Linked DNA regions of Homo sapiens. The protein of the gene in region 1 interacts with the protein of each later gene in a biochemical or structural test. Each region holds a gene or a part of one and is shown on either strand. Other genes may lie near its edges. The genes, in order: PDZK1, CYSLTR2, SLC34A1 and SLC15A5.

What was found.
Region 2: the proteins of PDZK1 (region 1) and CYSLTR2 interact in a test that uses a peptide from one of them, tested with the Homo sapiens proteins (2 studies listed by IntAct, with this or other methods).
Region 3: the proteins of PDZK1 (region 1) and SLC34A1 form a complex in vitro, tested with the Homo sapiens proteins (2 studies listed by BioGRID and IntAct, with this or other methods).
Region 4: the proteins of PDZK1 (region 1) and SLC15A5 interact in a test that uses a peptide from one of them, tested with the Homo sapiens proteins (2 studies listed by IntAct, with this or other methods).

What each region holds. Positions count from the first base shown.
Region 1 is NC_000001.11:145,697,344-145,704,370, reverse strand, and holds part of PDZK1 (Na(+)/H(+) exchange regulatory cofactor NHE-RF3), read left to right. Parts: intron 1-7,027. UniProt on the Homo sapiens protein: A scaffold protein that connects plasma membrane proteins and regulatory components, regulating their surface expression in epithelial cells apical domains.
Region 2 is NC_000013.11:48,656,919-48,663,945, forward strand, and holds part of CYSLTR2 (cysteinyl leukotriene receptor 2), read left to right. Parts: intron 1-7,027. UniProt on the Homo sapiens protein: Receptor for cysteinyl leukotrienes. The response is mediated via a G-protein that activates a phosphatidylinositol-calcium second messenger system.
Region 3 is NC_000005.10:177,380,393-177,387,445, forward strand, and holds the start of SLC34A1 (sodium-dependent phosphate transport protein 2A), read left to right. Parts: upstream 1-4,041; 5' UTR 4,042-4,095; intron 4,096-5,302; 5' UTR 5,303-5,349; coding exon 5,350-5,458; intron 5,459-5,594; coding exon 5,595-5,744; intron 5,745-5,828; coding exon 5,829-5,957; intron 5,958-6,030; coding exon 6,031-6,174; intron 6,175-7,053.
Region 4 is NC_000012.12:16,218,666-16,225,692, reverse strand, and holds part of SLC15A5 (solute carrier family 15 member 5), read left to right. Parts: intron 1-1,090; coding exon 1,091-1,279; intron 1,280-7,027. UniProt on the Homo sapiens protein: Proton oligopeptide cotransporter.

The DNA.
Region 1 (7,027 bases):
AACTAGAGAAGGTTTGCTTTTGGTCTGAGGTGGTCACTGGTTTCTGAGGTGCCAAGCCTGGTTGGAGGCACAGATAGTCAGCATTCATAAAGCTGCGTAGAACCATGGGGTCCCAATGGGGACATGAAACTAAATGATCCAGAAAAGCCCGTGGACTTTCCACCAGTTGTATTGAATACATACCTGATGGTGTGAGAATACAGAAAGGGGCTGTGGTGCCTGCTCTTAAGAAAGCTTATCTTGGCTGGGCATGATGGCTCACGCCTGTAATCCCAGCACTTTGGGAGGCTGAGGAGGGTGGATCACTTGAGGTCAGGAGTTTGAGACCAGCCTGGCCAACATAGTGAAACCCCATCTCTACTAAAAATACAAAAAGTAGCCGGGTGTGGTGGCGGGTGCCTTCAATCCCAGCTTCTCAGGAGGCTGAGGCAGAAGAATTGCTTGAATCCAAGTGGCAGAGGTTGCAGTGAGCCGAGATCGCACCACTGCACTCTAGCCTGGACCACAAGAGCAAGATTCCATCCCTCCTGGCCAAAAAAAAAAAGCTTATCTTGTTGGGGACACACGACATGGATCCTGAAGCTCCTCTATAGTCTACTGGACTGAGTCCAGTGCTCACAGTCTAACCTACTTCTTTTTTTCAACATATAACTGTGCTCTGATCTTTCTGAACCATTCACCATTCTGGGAATGCATCTCCTGCTGTTCCTTCTGCCTGGGATGACTTCCTCTTCCTAGTCTGACTACTTGTATTTCCAGAATACATTCTACACCTCAGGCCTGGGAGGCAGGGTAGATGGTGGAAGGAATCCAGACTCAACTGGGTTTGAATCCAGACTCTGCTTATCCAAATAGTCAGGGGAAACCAAGTTAACTTTTCAGAGTCTCTTTTCTTTTTCCTTGTAAAATGGCCCATCAGGATTGAATCAGAACCCATAAAAAGTACCTAGGCTGGTTCCTAATCCTAGTAGGGAGCTCAATAAATATATATAACAATAAGAAAGCTTTTGTATTTAAATATTCCAGCACCCACAACGTTGTTCAGCAGTTAAACTTCATAACTCTCCCCACTGGACTCCAGGCTCTTTCAGGGCAGGACGGTAGCTATTCTGGGTTGAGCCCTGATACCTGCCTCGCAGTAGGTATTACATAGAACTTGTTAAGTACATGAGCGATAACTGAAATTCAGAAGATGAAATGATACCTTCAGACTGTGGTGGTCATGGAAGGATTCGTATATAATCTAAAATTTGAACTGAGCCTTGAAAATGGTAGGTCTTAAATTCGTTCACTTGGAACAAATGTTTACTTAGCACGTACTATGAGTAAGTGCTCATGGGGCATGAGCAAAGGGCAGGCTCGTGTGGGTGACCATGCATAGACCAATTGGGGCTTGCTGAGGAGCTGGGGGCCTGAGGTAGGGCTGGATTATGCTGAGCCTCAGTGCCTGAGCAAGAAGCTTGAACTTCTTTTTTTTTGAGACGGAGTCTTGCTCTGTTGCCCAGGCTGGGGTGCAGTGGCACGATCTTGGCTCACTGCAAGCTCCGCCTCTTGGGTTCACACCATTCCCCTACCTCAGCCTCCCGAGTAGCTTGGACTACAGGCGTCCGCCACCACACCCAGCTAATTTTTTGTATTTTTAGTAGAGATGGGGTTTCACTGTGTTAGCCAGGATGGTCTCGATCTCCTGACCTCGTGATCCGCCTGCCTTGGCCTCCCAAAGTGCTGGGATTACAGGCGTGAGCCACTGCACCCGGCCGAGCTTCTTTTTCTTGAATTATTATTATTATTATTTTTGAGATGGTAGTATAATAAAACCAGGGTTAGAAAGTTTGTCTCGAGGCAAGACTCTTGTAGTAGTTTAAACATACCAAAAAAAAAGTGGGGGGGTAGAAATGCAAGTTCAAAAAGTCACAAAATGTCGATTTGGGGAAAGCACTTGTCTCAGCTGGCACTCAAGGCGGTTGAGCTGTCTATCAGCAGCATGAGGGTGTCCTCTCTCTGTGGGTGCCTCTGTTTCCACACAATATTGGCTCTATCCCTCTCCCAACTCATAGAACTCTTAGATAAGCAATCAAACTGTGAAAGGCCTTGAACTCCAGCCCAGAGTCTTGCCATATAGGACAAAGTATTGTTTATGGTGGCTGGAGGTAGGGAAGGTACTTAGTATCAGCAGGCCAAATGAACTTTGGGATAAGTAGATTCCATTCTTGATCATAAATGAGAAATAAAAACTACTCAGTGGGTCTGGGATCACTCTTCTCCAGATAATTCTCAATGGAATGGATTTCATTGATTTCTCATATTTGAAATTTATCCCTGGCTAAGACCAAACAGTAACTATCACAATGGGAAAGTACACTAGGCAAATACATATTTTAGAATCTTGCTTCTCCTTCTATTTTTGATATTAATTATTTAAAGTAAATATACTTGAGTATTTGAATTTCCATATGCTTTGCTTTTCAGAGGAGAAATCCAGGCAGCCTTAAATATGATCTGCATAAAAATATAGGATCTGTTCTAGGTAAAATATATTTGAAGAAGGGTGAAATTGAGTTGTCTTTATCTCTTCCTTGCTAGAGACATCTGTCAGTAGCAGCTCAGATACAGCAGGATTTTTTTGCTTATGCTGTTGGAAGGAACAGCATGTGCCAAGGCTCTGTGGCAGGCTCTGAAGGAGGCCAGCCATGGCTGGTGTGAGGCATGAAGCCTTGGAGTCAGGGCTGATGCCTGTAGGGAATTCTCAGCCTGTCTATAGTTGCTGGCTTAATGTTGCACAGTCTCCACCAACTGTATTTTCCTAACAAAAGTCTAGTGGGTTTGTTTTCTTCTTTCTTGTTACACAGATGCACACAAGTGCTGCAAGAACAGCATTCCTCAAAGTGCACACTGTGGTCAAGCGTCCTGAGAATGTGGCTTTTTTCTTGCTAAAGTTCAGAGTGTTTTATAGGCAAGCATGGAGTTCAGTGGAAAGCAAGTAATGTCTAGGTTTAATGTTGCCGGAGAGACCCTGCCCTTTCTTTTCCTTATGCCTCAACAAAACAGAAGTAACTTACTCTATGGTTTCATACTAGATTATACAATCAGATACCCTTCCACAGTCAGAGTAACTAGGGTTAAACATTCCTCACCAGCAGTCCTGCTAAGTGTTTGTTTTTTTTTTGAGATGGAGTCTCGCTCTGTTGCCCAGGTTGGAGTGCAGTGGTACTATCTTGGCTCACTGCAACCTCCACCTCCTGGGTTCAAGCAATTCTCCTGTCTCAGCCTCCCGAGTAGCTGGGACTACAGGCGTGTGCCACCACACCCAGCTGATTTTTGTATTTTTAGTAGAGACGGGGTTTCACCATATTGGTCAGGCTGGTCTCAAACTGCTGACCTCAGGTGATCCTCCTGTCTCAGCCTCCCAAACTGCTGGGATTACAGGCATGAGCCCCCGCGCCCAGCCCCTGCTAAGTTTTTAGTGTTTAGTGTTTTCATGGATTGAGTGTTGGTTATGTAAGTGCCTTGTGGGGAGAGGCTCTGTTGTCTTCGTGGTGTGATACTGACGGCATAATTGATTCCTAGTTACTATTAGATAAGGTGATGGTGGGTTCAGGTGTAGATGACTATATTTATGGAATAATCCTGCCACTTCTAAGTCCCAGACCTTGGAAGATGAGCAGAGATGACAGTACCTGGGCTGTTTCTTTCCTGATGGTATTTCATTGCATCTGGCCATCGCTGGTGACAGCCCCCTTCTGTCTTTCTCCCTCCAAGCAGAATGCTGTTTATCCCATGCCCTCTCTCTGATCTTTTGGCATTTCAGTGATGCTGTCTGGTGAGTGAGCCTATTCACTAGCTACTCCTTGGCTATGAAGGTCCCTCTCTGGGCCAGGTATCTATAGCTAAGGTAATGCTTCACTCACTCCATCTTCTCCACTGCTGTCTGTTCCTTGGGTCCCTATGTTCACTTCTGTTAGAGCTTATCCACTCCAGGCGGTGGAACTCTCTGGCCAGCTTAGTCTTGAAATTCTGTTAAAGCTCCCTGGACTCTTTTACCTCCTTGATACACAGCATTTGGTTCTATTTTGTAATTCCCTGGCTTTTAGACTTACAGGATACTTTTGAGTCCAGAGTTTATTATTTGAGCTTTCTTTCATGGGGAACAAAATCTCCAGCCCTGACTTTTCAGCAGCTAAAATTAGCTTCGCAGAAGTGATCTGGACTGAGTAGATAGAGAATCCCTTGCCTGATCATTGAGGTGCCTGCCCATTCTTAGTCTGTAATTTCTTCCTGTCTTCTGCAAAAAGAAAATCAGGAAAAATTTCAAATATTCTCACAGAAAATGGGATTCCCATTGCATCAGGCGTTTCATCAGAGGACAGGAAAGAGTAACTTGGATGGAGTGGACTTCTATGCTCCAGAAACTGTGCTGAGAGGCCTTGCATGCTCTACTGTGAGCCATCTTCACGGCATCCACATGTGCTTCCTATTCTAGGGGTATTCTATCTTCAGCTCAAAATTAAGGAACTCACCCATGTTCTTACAGTTAACAAGCGGTGAAGCCAGGATTAAAAACTAGGTTTGGCTCTAAAACCCTTGCTCTTTCTACTCTACCTTACTCAGAATCGATCCTGGGGGAAGATGGAAACAAAAATACAGATTCCCTTTTGTATACACATCTGGCTCCTTTAGAATTGCATCATGGGGAACTATTCTGCTCTAAAGATCTTTTCAGATAACTTTTCCTGTGTCAACCCACTAACTTTTGAAACTGCTTCCACAGTCCCTTCTTCTTTCTTCCCAACTCATGCTGCTAAGCTAGTCCCTGAAACATTTCATCTTCCCAATCCCAAACTCCTAGCTCCTCTTATCTGCCAATTCATGTTGGCCCCACAGTCTGACATTCCAGCTCTGTGCCCCTTGTAAATCTAGAAATCCTCACATCCTACTCTTATGGGCTTGTTAGTTTGAGATGGAGTCTTGCTGTGTCACTGAGGCTGGAGTGAGTGGTACAATCTTGGCTCACTGCAACCTCCACCTCCCGGGTTCAAGCGATTCCTGTGCCTCAGCCTCCTGAGTAGCTGGGATTACAGGCACGCACAACCACGCCCAGCTAATTTTTAAATTTATTTTATTTTTTTTTAAATTTGAGATGGAGTTTCACTCGTTGCCCAGGCTGGAGTGTAATGGCGTGATCTCAGCTCACTGCAACCTTTGCCTCCTGGGTTCAAGTGATTCTCCTGCCTCAGACTCCTGAGTAGCTGGGATTACAGATGCCCACCACCAAGCCTGGCTAATTTTTGTATTTTTAGTAGAGACAGGGTTTCGCCAAGTTGGCCACGCTGGTCTCAAACTCCTGACCTCAGGTGATCCGCCTGCCTCGGCCTCCAAAAGTGCTGGGATTACAGGCATGAACCACTGTACCTGGCCTTTATTTTTTATTTTTTGAGGCAGACTCTCGTTCTGTCGCCCAGGCTGGAGTGCAGTGGTGCAATCTTGGCTTACTGCAGCCTCCGCCTCCCGCCTCCCGGGTTCAAGCAATTCTCCTGTCTCAGCCTCCGGAGTATATGGGGTTATAGGTGCCTGCCACCACACCTGGCTAATGTTTTTTGTGTTTTTAGGAGAGATGAGGTTTCACCATGTTGGCCAAGCTGGTCTCGAACTCCTGACCTCAAGTAATTCACCCGTCTCGGCCTCCCAAAGTGCTGGGATTATAGGTGTGAGCCACTGCGCCTGGCCTACCCTTATGTTTTAAAAATATGTTAGCCCCAACTTAGGGTAAAAGTTACCACTTTCCTTTTCTATTCTTGATGTATATTACTGTAAGAAAAATCCATGGGAACCCATGCTGCTGCAAGTTTATTATATATATATATTTTAACCTAAGTTGTTTCTTAGACATTTTAATTCAATTCATTGACTCTTTGTAGTGAGCTAATGCTGTGGCCATTAGTTCACTGTCTTAGTTCACCGCCAGCTCGGGGGCTCCATTCTCTTTTGGTTTACATAGAATTTCTTTTAAGTTTGAAATAGCTGTCAGTTTTTTTAAATGGGGACATTTTATGTAAATCTAGATTTCCAGAGTCTCTTGAAAATTGAAAGGTGGCATGCTGGCCTCCTCTTCCTCAGGCAGTTGTCTTCTCATGAAAAGCAGCAGCTTTTCCTCCGTCCCCTCTCGGCCACCTTCGCTGATTTACCTGTTTGACCCTAGAGATTATTTTTCTGTGGTACTTTTGCTCCATATTCTCCAAGTTCCTGATTTTTGTCAGCTACTTCGTAGGAGAGATTGAGGCTGAGGTAAGTGACCTTGTTTTCTTCTTTATCATATTTTTTTCTACTTCTCTTCTGCCCCTGGAGAAGAGGTATTTCCTCTCACCAAGGCTAACCCCAGTTTCCATGTTCTCCATATCATCTCTTGATACAGAAACATGCTGATCGTTTCCTTAATGTTAAAAATAAAAACATCCAGGCTGGGTGCAGTGGCTCATGCCTGTAATCCCAGCACTTTGGGAGGCTGAGGCGGGCGGACCACAAGGTCAGGAGTTTGAGACCAGCCTGACCAACATGGTGAAATCCTGTCTCTACTAAAAAAAAAAAAAAAAAAAAAAAAAAAAAAAAAAAATTAGCTGGGCATGGTGGCGGGTGCCTGAAATCCCAACTACTCAGGAGGCTGAGCAGGAGACTTGCTTGAATCTGGGAGGCAGAGGTTGCAGTGAGCTGAGATCGCACCACTGCACTCCAGCCTGGGTGACAGAGCGAGACTGTCTCAAAAAATAAAATATCAATATTCGTTGCTTCTGTTACTTGGTATCCACTTGCTTCTTAGTGTTTTATCAGGCCCAGACTTCCATTTTCTGAATGTCAGTGGCATTTTCTGTTTTCATTCTCTCTACCTCTTAGCATTATTTGGCATTGTTAACTATCCCATCTTAAAATTCTTCTTTTAGTTTTGATGACACTAAAATTTTGGCATTTTGTTTTCTGATTATTCCTTTTTGCTTCCTCTTTCTTTTCTCTCTTTCTCTTTCTCTCTTTCCCTTCC
Region 2 (7,027 bases), on another chromosome or scaffold:
GAAATCCATGTCAGAAACCCCTAGCACTGTATTTCTTTATTTCTCAGGGTATTGGCCACTGCCTCCTTTGTACTGCAGTTACTTATGTACAGTATGTTCTATTGGACCAAGACTCTGACATTGGAGTCATTGCATAGAACCTAGCACATAAACTCCATTGAGAATAAAGGCATTGTGTAAATAAATCAATTCACCCAATGAATGCAGACTTTATTAGTTACAGCTAATGTTTATCTCTGTTGAACTTTATTAACCTCTTTATATTAATTGACCCATGGAGAAAATATAATCTTGACAGAATTTAAAGGAAAACCTCTTCCAATGGATTGATGACTTTGTGGCAGTACAGTCAGTCTTTTGACAAAGAAATCTAGTTATTATTCGAGAGGCCCAGGATAAGGGTCTAAGCAGTGAGTTGGAGTCAAGAAATTCCAAAGTCGGAAGGGTCCTTAGGAAGAGCTGGGACCAGAGGCAGAGTTTTTTTTGCCTCTTTAGTGTAAAGTCCTTAACGGAGAGGTTTCAAAAAAGTACAGGAAGCAGACTATAGAAAGAACAGAAGAAAGGAGAGAAAGGAGGGAAGTAGAGGAGAGGGGAGAGGAGGGAAAGAGATGGAAAAGGAGAGAGGAAAAGAGGGGAAGGGAGCTGGTTTACTCTGGAAGTTTAAATATTAATTAAGCTGGGAGAAATTAAAATAATTTAGTCCACCATTATTACCTACATTGTACATTATATAAATAAGAATTTATTATAAAAAAGATAATTTCCCACGTAAGTCTCCTGCCATGAGGCTGTAGAAACAGCATCGTACCTTGTTTGTACCTCTAGTACAGAAAAACAATCATCTAAAGAGTATTTGAAGGCATCCTAGATTCTTTTTTCTCTTTTGTCAAATTATTATTTTTAAAGTATTTTAAATTTGTATAAATTTATGGATTACACATGCAATTTTATTAGACGTATAGATTGCATAAATTGTGTAGTGGTCAAGTCAAGGCTTTTAGGGTAACCATCACCTGAATAACATTGTATCCCAGATTCTTTTAAGTAAGCTGGTTTCTCTTTATTTTGAGTCTTACCTTAAAAATAAGGTAAATTCGCTGAGAGATATGTAAATCTCTTGTAAATTCACTGTTCCTTTGTAAATTCACTGAGAGATATGAAGGTGACTCCCTTTTAGTTGTAAGAGGCACAAATCCCTATTGGGAACTTGTTGGCACAGAGTCAGAGAAACAGTCTGCTACCCTCCAAGATATAAAGGGTGCTGCTTCCTACAGTGTTTAGAACAGAGCACCATCTGGGTACCCTCTGTGGCTGCCTTCTGCTCCCATGCCATGCCATTGACCATTTACCCTATATTCCTCTTCCCAGACTTTAGATTTGAATTTCAGGAAAAGAAAATTTTCAAGGAAAAACACATTAACATCATTTCATTATAAAAACCATGTGAGTTCTTTCCCGCCCCCCAAAAAGATATTAATTGTAAGGCATAAAATGAGGGTGTTGGATAACAGCTTCATTAGCTCATTTATTGATCTGAGCACATTCATGTGCTTCACGCTGTGCTAGGGCCTGGGGTACAGCAGTAGACACGTGCTTGCCTTCCATGGGCAAACAGTCTGGTGGGTAGGGATAGACAGGAGACAACTGCTGCCCCTGGAGTAAATGCTGGATGGGAAACCCAAGGGTCTGCAAACAGCCAAGACATGGAGGGATCAGAGAAGACTTTTTCTGAAGAAAGTGATGTTTAGAAAGAAACCTGAGACTGGGTAAGCAATAGCCAGGAAATGAGCTGGAGCTCAGAAGAAATGGGCAAGAGAGAGCCTGCAGTGTTGGGGGTTTTGAAATAAGCTTCATGAGACTGAGTGTCCTTTACTGAGGGGATGGTGGGGAGAGAATATGCTGGACAACAAGATCAATACTATGAAAAGCCTGGAGATGAACTTGACTCTGAGATGATAATGGGTTTTAAGTGGAAGAGTAATGTGGTCAGATATGCATTTTGGAAAGGTCACTCTGGCCACTGTGTGAAAAATGAATTGAGAACAGCCAGAGTGGAGATAGGGAGCCATTGAGGAGGCTGTGCCCATTGTGCAGGTGAAAGATGACAGCCTGTACTAGGCCGGTCTTGAGCTGACCACTGAGATGAAAGGAGGAAGTTGATGGAGGCTGCTGGGTAAACAGGCCAGGTCTGCCACAGAGGAGACACTGGGCAGCAGGACAAGCAGGAGAGGAGGAGAGCCCATGGTTTACTTTTGCTCCTGGCCCTCTCTCCTTTAGATTTCAGATACCCACTGCCCCCATGCCACTGGCAGCAGGTGGGGTGGCAACAGGAATGACAATGCATGGTGCCAGGCAAAGTGTAGCTGCATCCCTGGCTGTCACCTGTGCTGCCTCCTGGGGTCCTCTCAATAACTCTGAGATGTTGAGTACTTTCTGATGGTCACACAGTTTGCACAAGGAAGAGCTAGGATTTGGGTTCAGTTGGGATTTATTCCAGAGGTTTTCCATGATATCGCAATGTCTCTATGTCATTTTAGGAAATACACATGATGTTTAACAAACTACCTTTGTAAATAATTTCTTTTCTCTAAGAATTGAATTTAATAATGGAATATGAAATGCTGTCTAGGGGAAATGAGAATGAGAGGGAGTTTTAATTTGAATAAATGGGCTTGTGAGGAGCTCCTGAGTCATGTCATTTAGTTACCTTGATTATGGACAGGGAGGACCCTAATGTTGATCAATCCGTAGGGATTTATTGGAATAAACAGGACAATGTTTCTATGATAACACTTGCTGTTCTTCTGTCTTGGAAATCAGAGACTCAGATAAAAAACAATTCTGTGATTCTGTGGTCTTCCTTAGATCAGACATTTGGTGAATAATAGATACCGCCAACCTTTCTAAATACAAGGATGAAGTGCATTAGAAAATGAAAAACATATTGTTGAGATTTTTACGAAAATTAAATTCATAATCAGCATCATAGACTCATGTGTTATATTAACCAAGGAGAGCTGAGGAAAGTTTTGAGAGCCAGAGAGAGGGCAACATTTAGTCAAAATAATGTTTTTAAACAAAATGAAGCCATATCTCTAAGCAGCTCAGGGCTCTTCATATATGATGTTTTTGTTGAGTTGAATTTTTGTTTGTTTATTTGGTGGCTGAATGTTAGTGGTAGGATGAATGTGCAAGAGAAGCTAGCTTTTGGAGTCTATTAAAGAAGGAAACAAGGAGAATTAGTAAAGACAGAGGTGGGAAGAAGGAGGTCTGAGGTAATGCTGTACATCTTGTTCTTGAGGGCAGAGGTGTCCCCTGGCATGTTTGGATGCCAAACTTCTGCTAGGTTTCAATCCCTGCTACATCCCTGGGGATAAGTTGTTCTCTGGGAGATAACAGTAGATCTGCCAGAAAACTCTTCACCAATGGCCCAAAGTGCTGACTTCATGGTTAAGTGGCATGTGGAAATAAATGGCATTCAGAAAGCAAAGGGTCACCAGCCTGGTGGCCAATGAAGTGACTCATACTTTGGGGGCTCCTTGAGGCACTTTGTGGGTGACCGGGTAGAGGAAAAATCAGTGCAGCAAAATTCTCCAAGGCACTGAGTCCATGAAAACAAGGCCCTGTGAGATTCATTCCCCTCCATCCCACTTCCTCTGGAAGCTCAGAGACCAGCTCCGTTTCACATTCAAAATATGTCACAATTTCAGTTCCTTTTATCTGTGTTTCTGTTTTGATCTCCAAGAACTTAATTCACCTTGACTTTTTGAAAAAAAAATTCTGAAAGCACAAGACCGTTCTTGGAAGGCCAGGAAGGTCTAGAAAGCTTGGCATTTCTGACATGACATTTGGAGCCTGTTACAAATAAACTCTGAGTTGTCAGCTTGGGTCTCAAGAGTAAACTCTCAGTGATACTTCCCTGTTCTGGAGGGCCGTGTTAATTCAGCACTCTGAGGCCTCTGGGATTTTGAGGAACAAATGTGTTGCAGAATCCTCTCTGCACAACTTCAGAGAGCTTATTCTGTCAGCCTTTGCAATAACAACAGCTAACACTTAATATGGCACTTTCTCTGGTCCAGGCCCTGACCTAAGTGCCATTCATGTATTATCTCACTTCATCCTTACAACCCTATGAAGTAAGAACTATTATTAGCATTACCCCTTTCTTTTATTTATTTATTTAAATTAATCTTTTTTTTTAATTTTTCTTTTTTATTGAGACAGTGTCTTGCTCTATTGCCCAGGCTGCTCTTGAATTCCTGGGCTCAAGCGATCTTCCTGCCTCAGCCTCCCAAAGTGCTAGGATTACAGACATGAGCCACTTTGCCTGGCCGCATTACCCCCTTTTACTGATAAGGAGCTGACGCCGAGGGAGATAAAGTCATTTTCCCATGGTCATAGAGGTAGTCCGTGAACAAATCAGGATTTAAATCCTGAGGTTGCTGCTCTGTTACTGCTTCCCTGCAGCTGAGAGCAACACCTGTCATGCTTCTCACCATTTTTTATCATTAAATCATTTCTCAGCCTTGTTTTTATATATTTACTAGTGCCCTGCAAAAATTTTGCCTCCTTAATGCTTGTTCTAGGTCCCAATTCTGAGGTTTAATAATAATAGTTAACATCACTGAGCGCTCACCCTGTATGAGACAACTCACATTTATTATGCCATTTATAGATGGCATAACTGAGGCTCAGAGAAGATAGGTCACTTCTGCAAAATCTCACAGCCAGTAAGTGGCAGATGTGGCCTGCTACCTTACACCAACTGTCTCCTGTGAACACTTCTATTTATTTTAATTTATTTGTCAAATTGACAAATAATAATTGCATATTCATGGGGTATATATTGATGTTTCTATACATGTAATGTATATTGATCAGATCAGGGTAATTAGCATATCCATCATCTCAAATATTTATCATTTCCTTTTGTTGGGATCGTTCAATATCCTCCTTTGAACTAGTTGAAACTATTTAATACATTATTGTTAATTAGAGCCATCTTACAGTGGTATAGAACATTAGAACTTATTCCTCTCATCTAGTGGTAATTTTGTATCCTTTACCAAATCTCTCCCTTTCCCCCACTCTTCCAGGCCTCTGGTTTCCTCTGTTCTACTTTTTACTTCTATGAGATCAACTTTTTTTACTATTCCACATATGAGTGAGAACATATGGTGTTTGACTTTCTGTTTCTGGTTTAGGAAATACAATGGACTTAACATAATGTCCTCCATTTCCACCCTTGTTGCCACAGATGACAAGATTTCATTCCATTTTATGGCTGAATAGTATTCCATTATGTATATATACCACATTTTCTTTATCCATTCATCTGTTGTTGAACACTTAGGTTGATTCCATAACTTGGCTATTGTGAATAGTGCTGCAGTAAACATGTCAGTGCAGACATCTCTTAGGCAAACTGGTTTCAAAGCTTTTGGGCAAGTACCCACAAGTGAGACTGATGGATCATATGGTAATTCTACTTTTAGTTTCTTGAGGAACCTCCATATAGTTCTCCATGGTGGCTATACTACTTTACAGTCCCACCAACAACACATGAGTTCCCTTTACTCCACATCCTTGCCAACATTTGTTTTTTCATCTTTTTGATAATAGCCATCCTAACTGGGGTGAGATGATACCTCATCGTGGTTTTGAGTTGCAAAATCATCACTGATGATTAGTGATGTTGAACATTTTTTCATATACCTGTTGACCATTTGAATGTCTTCTTTGTGAAATGTCTGTTTAAATCATTTACCCATTTTAAAATTGAATATTTTGCTGTTGAGATGTTTGAGTACCTTGTATATTCTGAATATTAGTCACCTGTCAGATTAGTAGCTTGCAAATATTTTCTCAAATTCTGTAGGTTATCTTTTCACTCTGTTGATTGCTTCCTTTGCTGTGCAGAAACTTTCTAGTTTGATAATCCCATTTGTTTATTTTTGCTTTTGTTGCCTGTGCTTTTGAGGTTTTATTCACAAAATCATTTCCCAGACCAGTGTTCTGAAATGTGTGTCCCATGTTTCCTTCTAGTAGTTTTTATCATTTTGGGTCTTATATTTAAGTCTTTGATCCATTTTGAGTTAAATTTTGTAGAGTGAGAGGTTTGGGCCTAGTTTCATTCTTCTATAGACATCCAGTTTGCCCAGAACCATTTATTCAGGAGACTGTCTTTTCCCCAATGAGTATTCTTGGCACCTTTGTCAAAAATCAGTTTGCTGTAGATATTTGGATTAATTTCTGGATTCTCTATTCTGTTCCATTGGCCTATGTGTCTGCTTTTGTTAGTAACATGCTATTTTGGTTACTATAACTCTGTAGTGTATTTTGAGGTTTGGTGGTGTGATACTTCCAGCTTTGTTCTTTTTGCTCAGGTTTGCTTTAGCTATTTGGGTTCTTTTGTGGCTCCATACAAAGTTTAGAACTTTTTTCTATTTATGTGAAGAATGTCATGGGTATTTTGATAGGAATTGCATTGAATCTGTAGGTTGCTTTGAATAGTGTTGTCATTTTGACAATATTAGTTCTCCTCCATGAGCATGGGTTGTCTTTCCATTTGTTTGTATCCTCTTCCATTTATTTCATCAGTGTCTTGTAGTTTTCCTTGTAGAGGTCTTTCACCTCCTTGGTTACATTTCTTCCTAAGGTTGTTTTTTGTTTGTTTGTAGCTGTTGTAATGGGATTGCCCTCTTGATATTTTTTTTCCAGCTAGTTCATTGTTTGTGTAGAAAACACTACTGATGTTTGTATATTAATTTTGTTTCCTGCAACTTTATTGAATGATTTATTAGTTCTAAGAGTTTTTGGTAGAGTCTTTCTATATATGAGATTATCATCTGTAAACAGGAACAATTTGACTTCTTTCTCTTGAATATGAATGCCATTTATTTATTTCTCTTGCCTAATGACTCTGACTAGGATTTCCAGTGCTATATTGAATAAGAGTGGTGAGAGTAAGCATCATTGTCTGTCCCTGTTCTTGGAAGAAAAACTTCCAACTTTTTCTAATTTAGTA
Region 3 (7,053 bases), on another chromosome or scaffold:
TCTTGTCACCCAGGCTGGAGTGCAGTGGCATCATCTTGGCTCACTGCAACCTTCACCTCCTGAGTTCAAGCAATTCTCTTGCCTCAGTCTCCCAAGTAGCTGGGATTACAGGTGCGCGGCACCACGCCTGGCTAATGTTTGTATTTTTAGTAGAGACGGGGTTTCACCATGTTGGCCAGGCTGGTCTCGAACTCCTGACCTCAGGTGATCTGCCTGCCTTAGCCTCCCAAAGTGCTGGGATTACAGGCGTGAGCCACCGCACCCAGCCTCTTTTATTTATTTATTTATTTATTTATTTATTTATTTATGTTTTTGACACAGGGTCTCGCTCCGTCACCCAGGCTGGAGGGCAATGGTGCAATCACAGCTCACTGTAGCCTTGCCTTCCCAGATTTCAGCAATCCTCCCACCTCAGCCTCCCCAGCTACAGATGCGTGCCACCACACCTGGCTAATTATTTATTAATTTTTTTAGAGGCAGTGTCTTGCTATGTTGCCCAGGCTGGTCTTGGACTCCTGGGCTCAAGTGACCCTCCCACCTCAGCCTCCAAGTGCTGGGATTACAGGCCTGAGATTTGGAGGGGATGCGCCCCGACGTGTGCAGTGCACACTCATGACTGTGTGCATGGCAGTTGTGCTGGTGTGAATGCCGGCATAAGATGCTCAAGGGTTCTTCTTCCCTTGACCATCTTCAACTTTAGGTCCTGCGGAAAACCCACATGCAGCAAACTGTGCATTTAAGGAGCACATGGCTCTGAAGAATTGCAGAAACGGCTGGTTGTGCCAGCCTCCACAGCTTGCTCAGTTCCTGGATGTGCACATTTGTTCTTGGGATCGTTCTCTCTCTCTCCGTTCAGCAGTGATGCCTCTCCCGGAGAAATGGTTTTCACTGGTGTGATGAAATTTAATATATGTCAGCGTCTCATATTCACGCTGGCGATGCTGTCTCTGCTCCCCCGCCTCCCGCTCCTTCCCACACCATCACAAGCTGACTCCTCCCCCAACATGCCCTCCCAGGTGGCTGACAGCCCTTGGTTGTTAAAGCCTCTCTGTTCTCAGATTACTTGACATCTTAGCAGCACTTGACCCAGCCAACCAGGGTGTCTCTCTCAAAATGTGGTCCAGCCTGGCTTCTGAGGTGGCTTCCTCCTGGTCCGTGGCTGCTCCTCTCAGTCTCCCTTAAATGTGGGTGCTGGCCAGGTGCCGTGGCTCACGCCTGTAATCCCAGCACGTTAGGAGGCTGAGGCGGGTGGATCACAAGGTCAGGAGATCGAGACCATCCTGGCCAACATCGTGAAACCCTGTCTCTACTAAAAATACAAAAATTAGCTGGGCGTGGTGGCGGGTGCCTGTAGTCCCAGCTACTCAGAAGGCTGAACCAGGAGAATCGCTTGAACCTGGGAGACAGAGGTTTCAGTAAGCTGAGATCGCGCCACTGCACTCCAGCCTGGGCGACAGAGCGAGACTCTGTCTCAAAAAAAAAAAAAGTGGGTGCTCCTCTGGGCTTGGCCCTGGCCCCTTCTCTCCTCCTGTACATGTCCTCCCTGGGGTACAGTTTCTCAGGCACGGGTTAAGGCTGGCAAAGCAGGTAGGAAGCCAAGTCACCCTGGTCCTTCCAGGCTACTATAGGATCCTGGGCTTTATGCTAAGTGGTTAGCAGGGGCAGGTTTCGAAAGGAAGAGGAGGTGACATGATTAACTTGGCCTTTTTTTTTTTTTCTTTTTGAGACAGAGTTTTGCTCTTGTTGCCCAGGCTGGAGTGCAATGTGCGATCTCGGCTCACTGCAACCTCTGCCTCCTGAGTTCAAGTGATTCTCCTGCCTCAGCCTCCCGAGTAACTGGGATTACGGGTGCCCGCCACCACGCCCCGCTAATTTTTTTGTATTTTTAGTAGACATGGGGTTTCACCATGTTGGCCAGGCTGGTCTCGAACTCCTGACCTCAGGTGATCCACCTGCCTTGGCCTCCCAAAGTGCTGGGATTACAGGCGTGAGCCACCGCGCCCGGCCTAGTTTGGCATTTTGAAAAGATTGCTGTCTGCTGCTTTGGAGCATGGATCAGGGGCAGCAAGGGCAGAAATGGACAGAGCACTTGGGAAGTGACCGCAATGACCCAGGGGAGATGACAGGCCCAGTCCAGGGAGGTGGCCACAGAGATGGCTAACAGCAAAAGATCAGGGAGCTCCTGGAGCAATAAAATTGGGAGAATTGAGGACTGAGTTGGAAACGAGGAAGTGGAGGGGAAGGAAACAGCAAGGATGTCTGCTTGGTGCCCGACCCAGATGGATGGACGGTGTGCCGCTCACCAAGATCAGGAAGAAGGAGGAGGCCCAGGTTTGGGGTGAGAAGCACAGTGCGTGCTTCTGGCTTGCAGAGCCAACTGCTCGTGCCAGAGGCCGCTCAGAAAGCCTGAGCAGACGGAGCTTGGCACCTTCCCTCCAAAACAGCTCCTCCTGCTGGGTTCCTTTCTCAACGCGAGACACCCCCAACCAGGCAGGCTCTCAGCCCAGAAAAGGTCTGGGGAGGCCATGGCCAGAGCCCAGGTGCACAGACAAGGTGGGACTCACCACCCAGGGGGACACACAGACTCTGTCACTGGCCAGGGAGGAGGCAGGCAGTAGGCAGGGAGGTGCTGAAATGGCAGAGAGGCTGGCAAGAGATACGTTGGTGCTGGAATGGAGCTGCCTTCTCTGCTGCTTGTATGAGTCCCAACAGCAGCTCTGGTCAGATCCAGCATTTTCTCACTTTCACTAGGGCTGTAGCCCCAAAATAAATCTTTAGAAGTGGTGGCTGTGTAAATCAGCAGCATTTTGGAATTATATCTCTTGATGGATTTGATCGATAGCTAACTGCCTCCCCCACTAAACCCAGAGCTCCGTGACAGCAGGGAAGGCAAACTTCAAAAATATCAAAAAGCACAACCTTATTAAAAAGGAGAAACACCCCCAGTTCACCAGGAGCACCTTGGATTCAGCTGCTCCTGCCAAGGGTCTGAACTGCACGGGGGAATGGAGAGAAACAGGTCACGTGGGCCGGGGTCTCTGGGCCCGCTGTGGGGGTGTCAGTTTGCTCATAGGTGGAGACACTCGATGTGACATTAACAGCACCTTCAAGCCCAAGGACCCAGAGATTCTGACACAAGAACTGAGAACTGATTGCATTTCCGTGACTCAGCGACACCCTCCTACCTGGGCATGAACCCAGCCCTAGCCAAAGATCCAGAGACCCGACTCCCATCTATTTCCTTTTCCTCTCTCCCTCCCCGTCACCAATTCTACTGGTCAGATGTCCCTGGGATGCACCTGTCCTCCCCAGCCCCTCCGTTCCCATCGGAGTTCAGGCCTCATCATCTCCTGCCTGGACCATTAGCCTCTTAACTGGCCCCTCCGCTTCCAGGCTCCCTTCCATATATCCGGGTTCCACCCCGGGGGCCATTCTAAAAGGCAGATCAGGCCCATCCCAGTCTGGCCAGCGGCTCCACATTCACTCAGACTCACATCCTGGACCCATGGTCGGGCATTAGAGACCTGCCACGATTCAACATTCCACGGCCTTTCCAGCTTAGGTCCTCATCTCACACTCCCTCTCCTCTGAGCTCCCCCTGGGAGACTTACAGACACCCCGACGCTTGGCAAGGCCATAGGATGTTTTTGTTTGGTTTGGTTTGGTTTTTCTGAGACAGTCTCACTCTGTCACCCAGGCTGGAGTGCAGTGGCACGATCTTGGCTCACTGCAACCTCCGAAGGCCATAGGATGTTTGGGTCATTCCCTGGGGAGTCCTGTCAGGCCAGGAACGAGGGGACCCTGGGAACAAGGTGCTGAGTGGCATCAGGGTCTCTGCCTGCAGGCGGGGGATGTGTCTGGGTCGTGGTTGATGGGAAGAACCTGACCATAGATTCCCCATGCAGAGCTGACGATTAGCAATTAACTGGGAGGAATCTCAGGGGTGAGGTTAATTGGGGGACAGAGGGAGGGCAGCTAGGGTTCCAGGGACTTTGCCCTTGACCCAAGAGTATAAAGAGGAGGGTCTCAGTTCTCCTCAGGGTCCTGGAGGCTTCATTGAGCTGCTGAGCAGAAGCTGAAACACAGAATTCTAAGGTGAGCCCAGGACCCTCACATCCCAACCCCACCCCCAGCTCTGAGTAGGAAACAGCCCAGCACCCCAGCCCCTTCATCTGTGTCCTATCTGCGCCCACCCCCACCGCGCCCCATATAACATGTCAGTCCAGCCAATCGCGGTGGCTCCCACCTGTAATCCCAGCACTTTGGGAAGCCGAGTGGGCGGATCACCTGAGGTCGAGTTTGCACTAAAAATACAAAAAATTAGCCAGGTGTGGTGGCAGGCACCTGTAATCCCAGCTACTTGGGAGGCTGAGGCAGGAGAATCGCTTGAACCCACGAGGCAGAGGTTGCAGTGAGCCAAGATTGTGCCACTGCACTCCAGCCTGGGCGGTAAGAGTGAAACTCCATCTCAAAAAAAAAAAAAAAAAGGACTCCTGCTCCTTCAGGACTTGAATTCAACTCTTCACACCCCTACAACAGCCAAGGACGCTGGGACAATGCGGGGAGTGCTGAGGCAGATCAGGGCACTCCACCCCAATAGCCAAGACTCCTGGGGCAGTGCGGGGACAAGGGGGGGCTGAGGCAAGCCTGTCAGTGTTTGTTCATTGCCCCTTGAGGGGGTGGATGGGGAAAGGAATTCATTGTGAGGGGAACCCAGGAACTCGGGATCCGGCCCAGGGGATCTCCGTGTGTGCCCAGCTGACCCCATGAGAAGGCAGGTGTCTGCAGCTCCTCCTTGCTCTCCAGGTGGGCAAAACTGAAGCCCGGCCCAGCCCCAGCCCACACCTGCAGCCACTGCCAACACCACGTATTCCCTGGCCCCCTCCAGCCCCAAACAGGCTGGGCGTCCTCAGTTCTCAGTGTCTTTTATCAATGCTATATCCAAGCCTCTGGTTCGGAGCCTGGGCTAGAGCTCAATAATACTCATTGAATGAGTGAATGGTGAATGAATGATCACCTCACCACCACCACACACACCCCTCCGAGACTCACATGCAGGTGCCCAGCACAGATGTGCACATGTGAGTCTGCATGTGAGTCTCGGAGGGCTGTGGTGGTGATGATGGAGGGTGTGGTTTGCTGGGTGTGTGTTTGTGCGTGTGAGTCTCGGAGGGGTGTGTGTGTGTGGTGAGGATGGAGGGTGTGCTTTGCTAGGTGTGTATTTGGAATCATGCGCCATGGGGGTTTGTGCAGGTGAGGGTGTGTGGGCATGAGTGTCCCGGACACAGCTATTGTCATTCAGCGTTGCTGAGACCCACTGACCTGCAGACCTCATAGTGGGTGCCCAGGATGTTGTCCTACGGAGAGAGGCTGGGGTCCCCTGCTGTCTCCCCACTCCCAGTCCGTGGGGGGCATGTGATGCGAGGGACGGCCTTTGCCTACGTGCCCAGCCCTCAGGGTAAGTGCTGCTCCCACACCCTGGACCCTGGTTGCCCACGGTTGCCCACATCCCGGATGAGGCCACTTCCCCCGCCTGTTCCTCCCCGCCTCCCCACTTTGGGGCCCTGGGGCTCCTGACCAGGCTCCCTCCCTAGTCCTACACAGGATCCCGGGGACCTCTGCCTATGCCTTCCCCAGCCTGGGCCCTGTGGCCCTTGCTGAGCACACCTGCCCCTGTGGGGAGGTCCTGGAGCGCCATGAACCACTGCCTGCCAAGCTGGCCCTGGAGGAGGAGCAGAAGCCAGGTGGGCCTGGGCTGGGGGTGGCAGAGGCGGCAGCAGTCCCTGCCCTGGCCTCTGCCCACTATGCTCATGGCTTCCCCCATCCAGAGTCCAGGCTGGTCCCCAAGCTGCGCCAGGCTGGCGCCATGCTGCTCAAGGTGCCACTGATGCTCACCTTCCTCTACCTCTTCGTCTGCTCCCTGGACATGCTCAGCTCGGCCTTCCAGCTGGCTGGAGGTAGGGCCCGGGTGGAGGAGACCTGGGAGGGGTTCCTGAAGGGCCTTGGACAACGCTGGCTCATGCTCCCCAGGGAAGGTGGCTGGTGACATCTTCAAGGATAACGCCATCCTGTCCAACCCGGTGGCCGGGCTGGTGGTGGGGATCCTGGTGACCGTGCTGGTGCAGAGCTCCAGCACCTCCACATCCATCATCGTCAGCATGGTCTCCTCTGGCTGTGAGTTGGCCCACCAGGGTGGGGAAGAGCTTGGAGGGGCACCCCAGGAGCTGGGAAGGGTGGCAAATGGGGAGCGTGACCCCAGTAAGGCTGGCCTCCATTCAGCTTGACTCCTGTATCAGCCAGGGACATGAGAGGAGCCCAACTGTAGCTGTATGTGACCCAGATGATTTATGGCAAGGAACTGGCTTCCCCGATGGTAGTTTGTCTGGGCAAGTCAGGAATCCGTAGGCCAGGGCATTGGAAGGGCAGGCGGGAACTCTCAGGTGGGCGCCGACACTGCAGTCCAGACAGGGCAGCGTTTCTCCTTTCTCAGGGAAGCCTCAGTTCTGCTTGAGGCCTTTCATTCTATTGGATTAGGCTGACCCAGGTTACCAAGGATAATCTCCTTTTCTTAAAGTCAGCTGACTGTAGACGTGAATTGCATCTACAAAACACCTTACAGAACACCCAGGCTAGTGTTGGGTTGAATAACTGGGTACCACAGCCTAGCTAAGTTGACACATAAAACTAACCATCACTGGCCGGGCGCAGTGGCTCATGCCTGTAATCCCAGCACTTTGGGAGGCTGAGGGGGGCAGATCACGAGGTCAGTAGATCGAGACCACCCTGGCTAACACGGTGAAACCCTGTCTCTACTAAAAATACAAAAAAAAAAAACAACAAAAACCAAAAAGCATTAGCCAGGCGTGGTGGCAGGTGTCTGCAGTCCCAGCTACTCAGGAGGCTGAGGCAGGAGAATGGCATGAACCCAGGAGGCAGAGCTTGCAGTGAGCCGAGATCATGCCACTGCACTCCAGCCTGGGCGACAGAGCGAGACTCTGTCTCAAAACAAACAAACAAAAAAACTAACCATCACACTCTGGGGCATGTGTGCAC
Region 4 (7,027 bases), on another chromosome or scaffold:
TGTGTCTGTTGGCTGCATAAATGTCTTCTTTTGAGAAGTGTCTGTTCATATCCTTCACTCACTTTTTGATGGGGTTGTTTTTTTCTTGTAAATTTGTTTGAATTCTTTGTAGATTCTGGATATTAGCCCTTTGTCAGATGAGTAGATTGCAAAAATTTTCTCCCATTCTGTAGGTTGCCTGTTCACTCTGATGATAGTTTCTTTTGCTGTGCAGAAGCTCTTGAGTTTAATTAGATCCCATTTGCCAATTTTGGCTTTTGTTGCCATTGCTTTTGGTGTTTTAGACATGAAGTCCTTGCCCATGCCTATGTCCTGAATGGTATTGCCTATAGGAACACTTTTCCACTGTTGGTGGGACTGTAAACTAGTTCAACCATTGTGGAAGACAGTGTGGCCATTCCTCAGGGATCTAGAACTAGAAATACCATTTGACCCAACCATCCCATTACTGGGTATATACCCAAAGGAATATAAATCATGCTGCTATAAATACACATGCACATGTATGTTTATTGCGGCACTACTCACAATAGCAAAGACTTGGAACCAAACCAAATGTCCAACAATGATAGACTGGATTAAGAAAATGTGGCACATATACACCATGGAATACTATGCAGCCATAAAAAATCATGGGTTCATGTCCTTTGTAGGAACGTGGATGAAGCTGGAAACCATCATTCTCAGCAAACTATCATAAGGACAAAAAACCAAACACCGCATGTTCTCACTCATAGGTGGGAATTGAACAATGAGAATACTTGGACACAGGAAGGGGAACATCACACACCAGGGCCTGTTGTGGGGTGGGGGGAGGGGGGAGGAATAGCATTAGGAGATATACCTATTGTAAATGACGAGTTAATGGGTGCAGAACACCAACATGGCACATGTATACATATGTAACAAACCTGCACATTGTACACATGTACCCTAGAACTTAAAGTATAATAAAAAAATTAAAAAAAAATAAAAACAAACAAACAAAAAAGAAACATCTAATGTCAATGGGTAAGAAATGTTATGGCTTATTACATGAATCTCTAGCTCTTCGTTTAACTTTTTTTTCTTTTGCATTATTTTCCTTCAGTTGCTGGAAATCTTTTTGCTGCATTGTCTGTGATGATAGCTGGCTTCTTTGAAATACACCGAAAACATTTCCCTGCAGTGGAGCAGCCCCTTTCAGGAAAAGTTCTCACTGTTTCCTCCATGCCCTGTTTCTACCTGATTCTTCAGTATGTTTTACTTGGAGTGGCGGAAACACTGGTAAACCCAGCCCGTGAGTAAACACCTTTTCAACTAATGTTAGAACATACTGAACCTTTACACAGAACACATCACCTCAACCAGAACAATTAAAGTGGTATGTCATCTATTCACCTCCTAGAGAGTTCCCACAATACTTCCAGCAAATTTATTTATTACTTTTTTACAAACATTTCATTTCTCCTCATTCCTCTGCCATGCACAGAACAATTATCAATTCTGCCTGGATGCAGATGGAACAAAAGATTTTTAATCTGGTTAAAGGCAATAACCATTTTGTCAGACACACCACAGGAGGAAAACCTCTGCTAAAACCCAGAAGACAACTCCAGAACACTAAGATGTAAAGCCTCTTCTCTTCTCCCTTCCCTCCTCTCACCTCCCCGACTCTCACTCATAGATAAACTCACAGGCCGGGTGCGGTGGCTCACGCCTGTAATCCCAGCACTTTGGGAGGCCAAGGCAGGTGGATCACGAGGTCAAGAGATCAAGACCATCCTGGCCAACATGGTGAAACCCTGTCTCTACTAAAAATACAAAAAATTAGCCAGGTGTGGTGGCAGGCGCCTGTAGTCCCAGCTACTCAAGGAGGCTGAGGCAGGAGAATCACTTGAACCCGGGAGGCGGAGGTTGCAGTGAGCCGAGATTGTGCCGCTGCACTCCAGCCTGGTGACAGAGTGAGACTCCATCTCAAAAAAAAAAAAAGCTCATTTATACTCCTCCAAAAATGACACTTAATGTTCTTTGAGAGTATATAAACATGCAAATGAAATGAAAATTTAAGCCAATTTTCCAGATAACTTGATGTCTTTGAATTAAATTACACTAGATTAAATGAGATCACTAATGTTTCATAAGACAGGTTCAAAATAAGTTTATTAAATATCAAGGGTTTCTGAATTATCTAGATTGCTTATATTAATTAAACTAGCCACTTTACAATTTATCACAATATTTCAGTGGCTTCTTGCAATACAGTAATGTGTGTGTACATCTATTTATCTCTGTAATTGATTACATCTTATGTTTCTATCCTCCTTAAATTTTCGTGTAGTAGGAGTCCTGATTGTAACTCAAGCTCCCATTATATTTTATGGATAATATTTTTATAACTTCTAACTATCTTCCGACCTCCATTATCTCTCCCATTCTATCAACTGGCACATGGATTTTAGAGTAATCATCCTAAATAACAATTCTAACCATTCCATCTGTGTCTACAATCTTCAATGATTCTATTATCTTAAAAGTTGTTTCCAAACTCCTTAAAATAAATATTTAATAAATATGTATTTATACACACACATACTTATGATACCAAGGCAATTCATTAAATAATGAAAATAAAATTAAGTTGGAGTATATGCATATATATGTGTGTCTCAGACTTCTTTTTTTATAATTGTATATCATTTCATCCCATATATTTTGCATACATAAATTACTTTATGAGATTTTAAACTGGGGACCTCACTGTTTAACACTGCAAGGAAGACAAAAGAAGTGTAAAGCAATGCTACTACACAAATATTTGTGATCTTCTCTGATGTTATTCCCAAAAATGTGTTGGAAGTAGTCAGCCAAAATTTTCTGGGCTGGTATAGAGTAAATAATGAGTAAAAGTAATGAGTGAATATGTGGAGGAAATTGCTAGCCAGCTTAGCAATAGTGGTTCAACATTCAGAAGCCAGAGAGGTACAGAAAACCAATGACTGTGAAAAAGGCAGATCATGTGCTACACATCACTTACTCCACCACTCCCTGATTTACTCCAGGAAATCAGGCCTAACTGAGGTCTAAGTCACTTGACTCATCTGCTATTGGGATAATGGACCAGGGACTGAAAGAATTTGGTCTGATATCTAGCTTTTCCATTACTACCTACATAAATTTGGGAACTCATTTAACCTCCAATCCTCACTTTTCTGATATTTAAAATAGAAATAATTGTATTCTTCTTTATATCACAGCATTGATAGGGTAAGCATCAATGGGAATGAGAGACTACTCCTTGAAAATCAAATGACATAACATATGAAAGGGTATTTCAAACTATAAAATCAAGTATTACCTTTCTGGGAGACAGTACAGCACAGAGGTTAGGCTCTATGGTCTTAAAGTCAGACAGATCTGAATTCAAACCCAGTTCTGTCACTGACTAACTCTGTGACGTTGGGAAAATTATTCCTCATTTCTGGGCTTTTCTCATCATCTATAAAACAGGGAGTTGTTCAAAGGACTAAGTGGAAGATTTTATGTAAAGCAAAAACCGCAGTGCCCCGTATATAGACAGCATTCAATAATTAGCAGTTATAATGTGTTGTTATCATTACTAAAAGTAATGGCAAAAACCACAATTACTTTTTCACCAACCTAATATTATTATCATGTTTCACATGAATTAATAGTGTCAGACTCAGAACAGAAGCACAGGTGTCCTGTTCCCAGCTCTTTCTGCCATAAACCACCTGAACAGCTGGGAGACCTGGAAGCATAAGCAGAACTGTCTCTCACTTGATTCATCCTAGATCCATCTCTTTCCTCTCACCTCTCCCCTCCAATCCAACAGCAAGTCCTCATTTTTACTCTGAAATATAACTTAAATCTGGCCACATCTCACTATCCCCTTTGTTCTCCTGGTGTACAACACCATCATCTCCAGCCCCAATTCGACCAGAGCCTCTGAACTTTTCTCCCTGCTTCCTCTCCTGCCCCATGAGTCCATTCTCTTCAAAACAGTTGTGGTGTTCTTCTCAAAACATAAGTTCTATCATTCCCCTGATTGAAATTCCACAGTAGAGTTTTAGAGATAAATTATTCACAATGGTGAATAATGTTCCACATGATTTGGTCTCCACGTGTTGTTCCACCTACATTTGGTTACAATCTGCCCCTTGACCACATCCCCAGAAATGTGTGTGTTTCTAAGATGCTAGATTTCTGTCTACCCCAAGTCCTTTGTACTTGCTTTATCCTTTATTCAGAATTCCCTTTCCTCTGTTTTCAAATGACTGGCTTCTCATTATTGAGCTTTCTCAAAGGTCTTCTCTTTGGAGGGGCTTCCTTGAGCATTCCATCACTTTCCACTTAATTACCCTGGTTTTTTAAATAGCACTTGTCAGAATCTGAAATTACTTTATTTATATTTGTATTGCCTGCCTCTCACTGTAAGAATATACATTCCTGACATCAAGGTATGTTTCTCCTTTCCGAAAAGTACATATACAAAATAGGTGATCAATAAATACATTTTGATTGAAGAAACAAATGAATGAAGTCTACGGCTATTTCTATATGGTACAATAAAAATGTATTATTCAAACTTTTGACAGTGTCCTACATTGATGGCATTGAGCAAGGAAACACAGTGAATCACTCCATAAATGACAGTAGACATAGCCTACCCTACTAAGACATGTTATACATTGGAGATGAGCTAGAAAAAAAAAAGCAGTAGGAAACTTTTCAAATTATGTTTTAATTGTAGCAGCGTACACCTCAGCTGTCTCATACCCTATGTTTGTTTATTCAAAAAATACTGTGTGGGTGTCTACAGTGTGCCTAATACTGCTCTCGAAGTTTTAGACACATCAGTTAAAAAAAATAAGACAAAAATTTCTGCCATTATAGCTTATAGCATCTCTGTGGTTGAGTAGTGGAGAGTAAGTTGGGAAGATAGAAGGCTCTAATCAGAGAAGGGTGCACAAAATTGTGATTATGGAGTGGGTACAGTTATTGATCCAACACATGGTTTTGCAGGCCAGTCTCTGTTACAATTACTCAACTATGTCATTGTGGTATGAATGCAGCCATAGACAACATATAATAAATGAGCGTGGCTGTGTTCCAATAAAACTTTATTAAAATAGGTGGCAAACTGAATATTACCTGACCATAGCTGGCCAACCACTGGTCTGAGGTACAAGGCATAGGCCATGACCTTGGGTGTGAGTGGAGTGGAAGCTGAGGTAGATTGGAGATCAGACATTGGAGGTCAAGGAACTGGACAACCAAGATTGAAAGGATGGAAGGTGGGAAGGATGATCTACATGTATAGTAAAATTGCCAAGTATTAAGGCAGAAGTAGTACCAGAGAGTGTGACAATGAGAGAGGAACTGACAACTCTGAGAAAAAGAGGAAAATGTCCTATAGATTGGCAGATGACAGCATGAAAGGGAAGTAGATGATATAGTCTGATAACATGAGCTTCAAAGCTGAAGCTTTTTTAGGGTTAAGGGAGATATAATGGTCTAAAAATGGCAACAGGATAAAGTTCCATTTTCTGGGACTGTGGTACTTCTTCTCCACATGTTCAAAATAACTTTTCACCAAACACAATACACACATTTTAACTGTTTAAGAACAACGAGAGTAAAAAATATTTCCAGCAATAAGTCCCCAGTACCAGGTGCCTTAGGAAGGTGGTTATGGCCCTATATTTTGAAGATTCCTCATATGCTGTGATGTGGCATCTTTACAAGCACTAACCAGCTACTACCTGGAGGCACATTTTTAGCGCTCATTGGCAAGAAGACCAGCTTTCACGTACACACTGAATATTTTTTATTGTGTCTTCATAGAAAAACGGGAACTTTACAATAGTGACAGACTTATTGATATTATCTACATTGTAATGGGCTAAAAGAAATATCTCGGAGCCTAAAAAAAATCAAATTGATGATCACTAAAGTTTCAAAAGATCAGAACATGCAAGTAGATGCCTAAAAATGAAGATTCGAGGACTTGAAAAGCTAAGTCCTATAAAAGGGAACTGGAGGTTTTCAAAAACGACTAAAATGACACCAAAGAGAGATTAACCAGCAGGCAGAGAGCTGGCAAAGTGTGTTCATGAATTATATACCGTACCAGAAGTTCTAGCAGGAGAAAAGCATAGGATTAATAATTAACTAGCAGAGTAATAATGGGCTTGTATGTTCTGCTTTTTCTTAGTGAAAGAAATAGGCCTACTTACTCTTTCTGCTCATTGCTTGTCTCCTTGTACTTATGGAAAGGAAAGTTTATAAGCCAAATCCTTTTTATAACTGTGAATCATTTATTCCCAAAGCCTATTCAGGCTTCCTCTCATATTCCCATTTGGACCTTTCTGAAAATACTCCAAGGTTCCTGCTGGTGATTGGTACTACACAAAGAGCTGTGCTACCGTGCCACCAATATTTGAAGCCCTTCTCCACAGTATTTTACCTATCACCATTATTATCTTCATCTCCAATCAGCGTTTGTGGGAAAAGTGCACATTTAGCACTGCCCTTTGTACTAAATAATGTGCTGTTTCTGCTCCAGAGTTTAAAGTCCAGGAAAGATAAACTGATGCCTTTTCCCACCTCTCAGTTCCAGCACTGAGCACTTTCCTGAAGTGCAAAATGGGATTCCTTTAAATCTTTATGGGATAAATAAATCAAGACATGTGCAGGACACACCGAAAGTAAAACAGAAATTTTAAATTAAGGAAGGAGCATTAATACATTTACATCATGTGTTAGTAAGATCATGGAAAAGTTCTGGTAAATGCAGAGTTTTGCTGCAGCAAAGTATTAAAAACAAACAAACAAGCAAACAAAAAACCAGGGGTAAATATTCCCGAGAGGAGCAGGAAGAGATAATAAGATCTCTTACTTCTCATAGAGAAGGAAACTAAATGTTTAGTGTTTACAGTACAGTCATGCAACACGTAACAACATTTTGATCAATGATGGATCACGTATATGACGGCAGTTTCATAAGATTATAGTATCATATTTT